Linked DNA regions of Homo sapiens. The protein of the gene in region 1 purifies or fractionates together with the protein of each later gene. This does not show direct contact. Each region holds a gene or a part of one and is shown in the gene's direction. Other genes may lie near its edges.

The links.
Region 2: the proteins of SYT3 (region 1) and MADD purify together in Homo sapiens (affinity purification with mass spectrometry; 2 studies listed by BioGRID and IntAct, with this or other methods). This does not show direct contact.

The regions. Positions count from the first base shown.
Region 1 is NC_000019.10:50,629,882-50,633,381, reverse strand, and holds part of SYT3 (synaptotagmin-3), read left to right. Parts: intron 1-570; coding exon 571-1,096; intron 1,097-3,210; coding exon 3,211-3,500. UniProt on the Homo sapiens protein: Ca(2+) sensor involved in Ca(2+)-dependent exocytosis of secretory vesicles through Ca(2+) and phospholipid binding to the C2 domain.
Region 2 is NC_000011.10:47,322,133-47,325,632, forward strand, and holds part of MADD (MAP kinase-activating death domain protein), read left to right. Parts: intron 1-1,538; coding exon 1,539-1,703; intron 1,704-2,132; coding exon 2,133-2,205; intron 2,206-2,338; coding exon 2,339-2,445; intron 2,446-3,129; exon of another isoform or gene 3,130-3,201; intron 3,202-3,500. UniProt on the Homo sapiens protein: Guanyl-nucleotide exchange factor that regulates small GTPases of the Rab family. Converts GDP-bound inactive form of RAB27A and RAB27B to the GTP-bound active forms.

The DNA.
Region 1 (3,500 bases):
TCTCAGAACTGTCATTTATTACTTGTAAAACCTTAAACAAATCACTGAATCTCTCTGTGTCTCAGTTTCCTCATCTTTAAAATGGTCATATAGAACTACTGGGCTGGGCACAGTGGCCACATCTGTAATCACAGCACTTTGGGAGGCCAAGGTGGGAAGATTGCTTGAGGCCAGGAGTTCGAGCCAGCCTGGGCAACATAGCAAGACCTCATCTCTACAGAAAAATTTAAAAGTTAGCCAGGTGTGATAGCACATACCTGTAGTTCCAGCTTCTTGGGAGGCTGAGGTAAGAGGATTGCTTGAGCCCAAGAGTTCGAGGGTGCAGTGAGCTGTGATTATGCCACTGCACTCCAGCCTGAGTAACAGAGATTCCATCTCTTTAAAAAAATACAATACTTAACCTTGTAGAGTTGTAGAACATAAATTAAGTAATACATGTAAAGTGCCTGGCACTTGCAATTGCATGGACAATTGCATGGCAAATATGAAGGGTTAACTCTTTGGGGACAGCAGAGGGAGGATGTACTGTGACCCCATCCTGACCCCTACCTCTGTCCTCGTTCTCTCCAGACATCTCCGTGAGCCTGCTGTCGGTCATCGTGACATTCTGTGGCATTGTCCTTCTGGGTGTCTCTCTCTTCGTGTCCTGGAAGTTGTGCTGGGTGCCCTGGCGGGACAAGGGAGGCTCGGCAGTGGGCGGTGGCCCCCTGCGCAAAGACCTAGGCCCTGGTGTCGGGCTGGCAGGCCTGGTAGGCGGAGGCGGGCACCACCTGGCGGCTGGCCTGGGTGGCCATCCTCTGCTGGGCGGCCCACACCACCATGCCCATGCCGCCCACCATCCACCCTTTGCTGAGCTGCTGGAGCCAGGCAGCCTGGGGGGTTCTGACACCCCTGAGCCCTCCTACTTGGACATGGACTCGTATCCAGAGGCTGCAGCAGCAGCAGTGGCCGCTGGGGTCAAACCGAGCCAAACATCCCCTGAGCTGCCCTCTGAGGGGGGAGCAGGCTCTGGGTTGCTCCTGCTGCCCCCCAGTGGTGGGGGCTTGCCCAGTGCCCAGTCACATCAGCAGGTCACAAGCCTGGCACCCACTACCAGGTGAGAGAGGATACTGGGTTGGGGGTCCACTCTGAACTTCTGCTCCTCCTCTGTGTCTCTTTCCTATCTATAGCTCTTATGAGTTCGGGATTTGGAGGGGAATCGGGGTATTGACTCCTGGATCTTAGGGAAAGAGGAGGCTGGGGCCCTAGACTCCTGGATCTGAGGGAGGTTGGGGCTGTGGGGTCTAGACCCCTTGGACCAGAAGAAGTAGGGGACTGGGGGCCTGAATTCCTGGGTCCAGAGGGAGGAGACTGGGGGCAGGACTTAGGACAGGAAAGTAGAGGAGAATAAGGTTGGATCCCCAAGTCCCCTGTGGCACAAGGCAGTTCACCCCCTTTCACCCTAAGCCAGGATTGGTAGTGGGACCTGGAGTTCCTTCATTCATTATTTCTCAATATACATGTAAATGTATATTGAGCACTGATATAAACTAGGCCTGAGAGGGGTGTTAGGAAAACACCAGACTCTGCCCTCCTGTCACTCACAGCGCAGGGGAGGCGACCCCCAGACTGGCTGTCCTGGTGTAGCCAGGTTGGTGAGACAGGAAAGCGACTCAGGGAACCGCAACTGGGAGAAGGCTGGGAGCTTCCTGGAGGTGGAGATGTCTCAGCTGAGACCTGCAGGCTGAGGGAGAGTTGGGAAGGCAAAGAGGCAGGGCTGTGACCTGGGCATTCCAGGTGAAAGGAGAGGCCCAGGCAAAGACAAGAGGAGAACGAGATCCTAGTGCATTGTGAGGACAGCCCACACCAAGGGGACAGCCAGGGCACCAAGCCTTAGTCACCAAGGCATGAGAATAAGTTTGAAAAACGGAAAACTTCAGGCTGGGCGCAGTGGCTCATGCCTGTAATCCCAGCACTTTGGGAGGCCGAAGTGGGCAGATCACTTGAGGTCAGGAGTTCGAGACCAGCCTGGCCAATATGGTGAAACCCCATCTCTACTAAAAATACAAAAACAAACAAACAAAAATAGCCGGGCATGGTTGTGTGTGTCTGTAATCCCAGCTACTCGGGAGGCTGAGACGGGAGAATCTCTTGAACCTGGGAGCCAAGATTGCACCACTGTACTCCAGCCTGGGCAGCAGAGTGAGACTCCATCTCAAAAAAAAAAAAAAAAAAGAAAGAAAGAAAAAAGAAAAAGAAAACTTCAGAGATGTGACTACAGACACCAGACCACATGGGGCTTTGAGTGCCCGCCTGAGGGTCTGGGACTTTGTCCTGAGGGCACTGAGGAGCCATGGGAGGGCTGTGAGCAGGGGAGGGGCAGGCTCAGCTCTGGGTGTAGAAGGAACCCTCTGGGGCCATATGGGAGTGGGCTGGAGGGAGACACTGGAGGCTGAGAGTCCAGGAGAGGACAAGGCCTGAGCTGTGACCAGGACAGTGGGGATAGAGAGGAGAGACAGCCGGGGAGATTAAGAGAAGGGCAGAAGAGCGTTCAAAGAAGGTCTGCCAGGGGTCCATGGAGAAGCATCCTGGGTCACCAGCTTGAGGTCCAAAAGAGGTTACTGGAAGCTGGTTTATGCACAGGTCTGGGCTGGAGCTAGCTTTGAAATGGGGAGAATGAGGCTGGGTGTGGTGGCTCACACCTGTAATCCCAGCACTTTGGGAGGCCGAGGCGGGCAGATCATCTGAGGTCAGGAGTTTAAGACCAGCCTGACCAACATGGTGAAACCCCATCTCTGCTAAAAATATAAAAATTAGCCGGATATGGTGGTGCATGCCTGTAATCCCAGTTACTCGGGAGGCTGAGGCAGGATAATCACTTGAACCTGGGAGGCAGAGTTTGCAGTGGGCCGAGATCGCGCCTTTGCACTCCAGCCTGGGTGACAAGAGCAAAACTTCGTCTCAAAAGAAAAGGAAAGAAGGAAGGAAGGAAAGAAGGGAGGGAGGGAGGGAGGGAGGGAGAGAAGGAATGCCCCCCAGATACCAATGGGGAATCTGAGGCTCAGAGAGCACAGTGGCTTCCTCAAGCTCACACAGTGAGCAAAGGAGGGGACTTGTGGCCACCTGGCTGGGGGATGGGGGGAAAGGCAGGGAGGAGTCTCCCAGGTCTCTGCATGCAGTCGAAGATCAGAGCCACTGACCTCACCTTGGTCTCCCCCCAACCCCCTACAGGTACCCAGCCCTGCCCCGACCCCTCACCCAGCAGACTCTGACCTCCCAGCCGGACCCCAGCAGTGAGGAGCGGCCACCTGCCCTGCCCTTACCCCTGCCTGGAGGCGAGGAAAAAGCCAAACTCATTGGGCAGATTAAGCCAGAGCTGTACCAGGGGACTGGCCCTGGTGGCCGGCGGAGCGGTGGGGGCCCAGGCTCTGGAGAGGCAGGCACAGGGGCACCCTGTGGCCGTATCAGCTTCGCCCTGCGGTACCTCTATGGCTCGGACCAGCTGGTGGTGAGGATCCTGC
Region 2 (3,500 bases), on another chromosome or scaffold:
TGTAGGAAGTTATTACTGTTACTATCCCCATCTTACCTGTGAGGAATTGTGGACACAGATGAACTTGCTCAGGGTGGCACAGCTCAGTAATGGCAGAGCTGGAATCTAAACTCAGGCTGACTTTAGACCTGTGCCCTTCACCATTGTGCTGTAATGTCTCCCGTAACATTTGAAGCCTTAAGAACGGATAACTGGCTGCGCATGGTGGCTCACGTCTGTAATCCCAGCACTTTGGGAGGCCGAGGCGGGCGGATCATGAAGTCAGGAGATCAAGACTATCCTTGCTAACACGGTGAAACCCCGTCTCTACTTAAAAAAATATATAAAAAATTAGCCGGGCATGGTGGTGGGTGCCTGTAGTCCCAGCTACTCGAGAGGCTGAGGCAGGAGAATGGCGTGAACCTGGGAGGCGGAGCTTGCAGTGAGACGGGATTGCGCCACTGCACTCCAGCCTGGGCGACAGAGCGAGATCCGTCTCAAAAAGAAGAACAGATAACTTCACCTGAAAGAGAATGTTGAACAAGAAGGTGTCAAAGATATTTGCTTTTTAATTTATATCATCCTGTATTGTATCATTTTTATGTAATAAGCATTGTTCATGTGTCACTTGTGTAATTAATTTTTAAAAATATTTTTATAGAAAAAGGGTAGACCCAGGATTAGAAAGTGCATCAGCTCCATTTTTCTCCTTGGTTAAGTCTGTCATGATCTCCTACCTTTGTGTTTGTCAACAAAGATGATTCCTGAGCTTGTAAGATGGAGGCATGAGATCTCCTCCAAATACTTTAAGTCCGTAGAGCACATAAGAGGTAATAAATAACTGGGCCGGGCGCGGTGGCTCACGCCTGTAATCCCAGCACTTTGGGAGGCCAAGACGGGTGTATCACTTGAGGTCAGGAGTTCGAGACCAGCCTGGCCAACATGGTGAAACCCTGTCTCTACTAAAAATACAAAAATTAGCTGAGCATGGTGATGTGTGCCTGTAATCTCAGCTACTCGGGAGGCTGAGGCAGGAGAATCATTTTAACCCACAAGGCAGAGGTTGCAGTGAGTCGAGATTGCACCACTGCACTCCAGCCTGGGCAACAGAGTGGGACTCCATCTCAAAAAAAAAAAAAAAAAATTATAGCCAATGTGATGGTGTGCACCTGTAGTCCCTGCTACTTTGGGGGCTGAGGCAGGAAGAACCTGGCTGGTCGAGGCTGCAGTGAGCTGAGATGGCGCCACTGCAGTCAAGCCTGGGGTACAAAGTGAGACCCTGTCTCAAAAAAAAAAAAAAGAGGTAATAAATAACTGATTGATTTGTGCCTCCTCCCTTATACATCGGTTCCTTCTAATGACTCCATCTCTTCCAACAATCCTTGTAGCAGGCAGCATGTCAGTAGTTCTGTTTTGTGTCTTCACCTAGGGAAACCATGAGCGTAAGGCAGAAAACCTGACCATGGGGATGCCCCAGGACCACCTTTCCCTGTAGGAAACAGTCTAGGGAGAGGCTGTCAGAGACAGGAACCACTGAGCCGCTTTGTGCACTTCTCCAGGTGTGCGATGACTGTGTGGTGTTGCGTAGTAACATCGGAACAGTGTATGAGCGCTGGTGGTACGAGAAGCTCATCAACATGACCTACTGTCCCAAGACGAAGGTGTTGTGCTTGTGGCGTAGAAATGGCTCTGAGACCCAGCTCAACAAGTTCTATACTAAAAAGGTACGCAGGATCTGTGTTTGGGTTGGGGCTAGTAGGCATTGAAGACCAAATAGTGAATTTCTCTTTGGGAAGTTAAAATTCCAAAACACACATCTGGAGCCACACTTCTGTCTCCAGCTGTTGGGTGGAGTACCTAAAGCTGTCTCTGTCAAGCCAACTAGGCCTAATAGTAGTCACAATCGGTATTAACCAACCATATCTAGCATTCCTACACATCTGTACCCATGCCTTCTTTAAAGCCATACTATTCATATGCTCCGGATCTATCATTCATAACCTCAACAATGAATAAGACATCCGAAAAATAGGAGGACTACTTAAAATTTTACCCCTCACTTCAACCTCCAGCCTTCAGTGGCCATTATAGAGCAGTGGGTGGGGAACCCTGGACAGCCCTCATGATGGGACCACTCTCCCCCTGTGCCACAGTGTCGGGAGCTGTACTACTGTGTGAAGGACAGCATGGAGCGCGCTGCCGCCCGACAGCAAAGCATCAAACCCGGTGAGGAGAGTTTTTCCTGAGAGTGTCTTCCCTGTTTCTACCAGTCCTTCTGAGTGTCAGGGGCCTGGCAGGGAAGTCAGGGGTGGGATTCCCCACCTCACCAGTGAGCTGATAGCCCCCTCCCTCACCACAGGACCTGAATTGGGTGGCGAGTTCCCTGTGCAGGACCTGAAGACTGGTGAGGGTGGCCTGCTGCAGGTGACCCTGGAAGGGATCAACCTCAAATTCATGCACAATCAGGTAGGTGCGAGCGGCAGCACGAGGCTCCCTGTCGTTCCATCTGTAAGAAGGACCAATGTCCAAGCCCCCAGTACTTCCCCAGCAAGCATGAGAGAGGGCCCTCTGGAGCTAGAGGGAGAACTGGAGCAGCTGGACCCAGGAAAGAAACCCCAGGGGAGGGCACAGTGACGTTGGCGACCACCTGGCGCTGTGAAGGTGCACCAGGGAGCCCGTGGGGGAGGCTGGGCAGGAGCGAGGCCAGGTGGCCACGCTGCCCCATCCGTTGGACTCCACACAGTGTGAGTGGGAGCGTCTCACTTGGCCCTTCCCCTGCAGTGTCTCTGCCTTCCTCTATTCCCAGGATATGCTTCTGCTTGGTGGTTTTGCTTTGAGAGTCTAGACTGGCCGATCTCCTTGTGTCTTTCTGGTGTGCGTGCAGCTTGCGTGTGCGTGCGTGCGTGCCTGCGTGCTTGTGTGTAAGTAGCTTGTATCTGTCCTCTCTGGAGTGTGTTTATTTGCCTTTTTCTTCTGCGGATTCTTCTTCCTGTTCTTTTCCTTCCTCTGAGTGTTCCCACTCTGTCCCCTGCTCCACAGGCCCCATTCCCTTTCTTTTGATTGGGGAGCACTTGTGGATACATCTTTCCCTCATTGTAATTCCACCATAGGAGCTGACTTTTTTTTTTCTCTCTTGGTCTTTTAACACAGTGTTACCTTTTTCTCTCAGTGGACATTCCTTAAGCTAATTCCTTTCTGAGGCCAGCGCATCATCCCAGGTCCGTTCACAGCTCTGACTCCTCACACAAGTGCCTTCCCTCCTCTTTCCCTGATGTCCGGGTTCCTCTCCCTGAGGCTCTGAGCCAGACCCAAATGTGTGAAGCCCCACAGACCCTGGCCAGGCCGCAGACCCTCAGGGGAGGTGGATGCCTGACTGACGTGGCTGTCTCCCTCCCTCCGCTAGCCGTTGTAGCTCTCTTTCAGGAACGTAGCTGGGCAGCTTTGGTTTAACAGGAAATGGCTGCGCAGGCTGCCAGCAGCCCCTTAGTATATTTTCAATTTAGGACTTAGGGCAGTAGCCA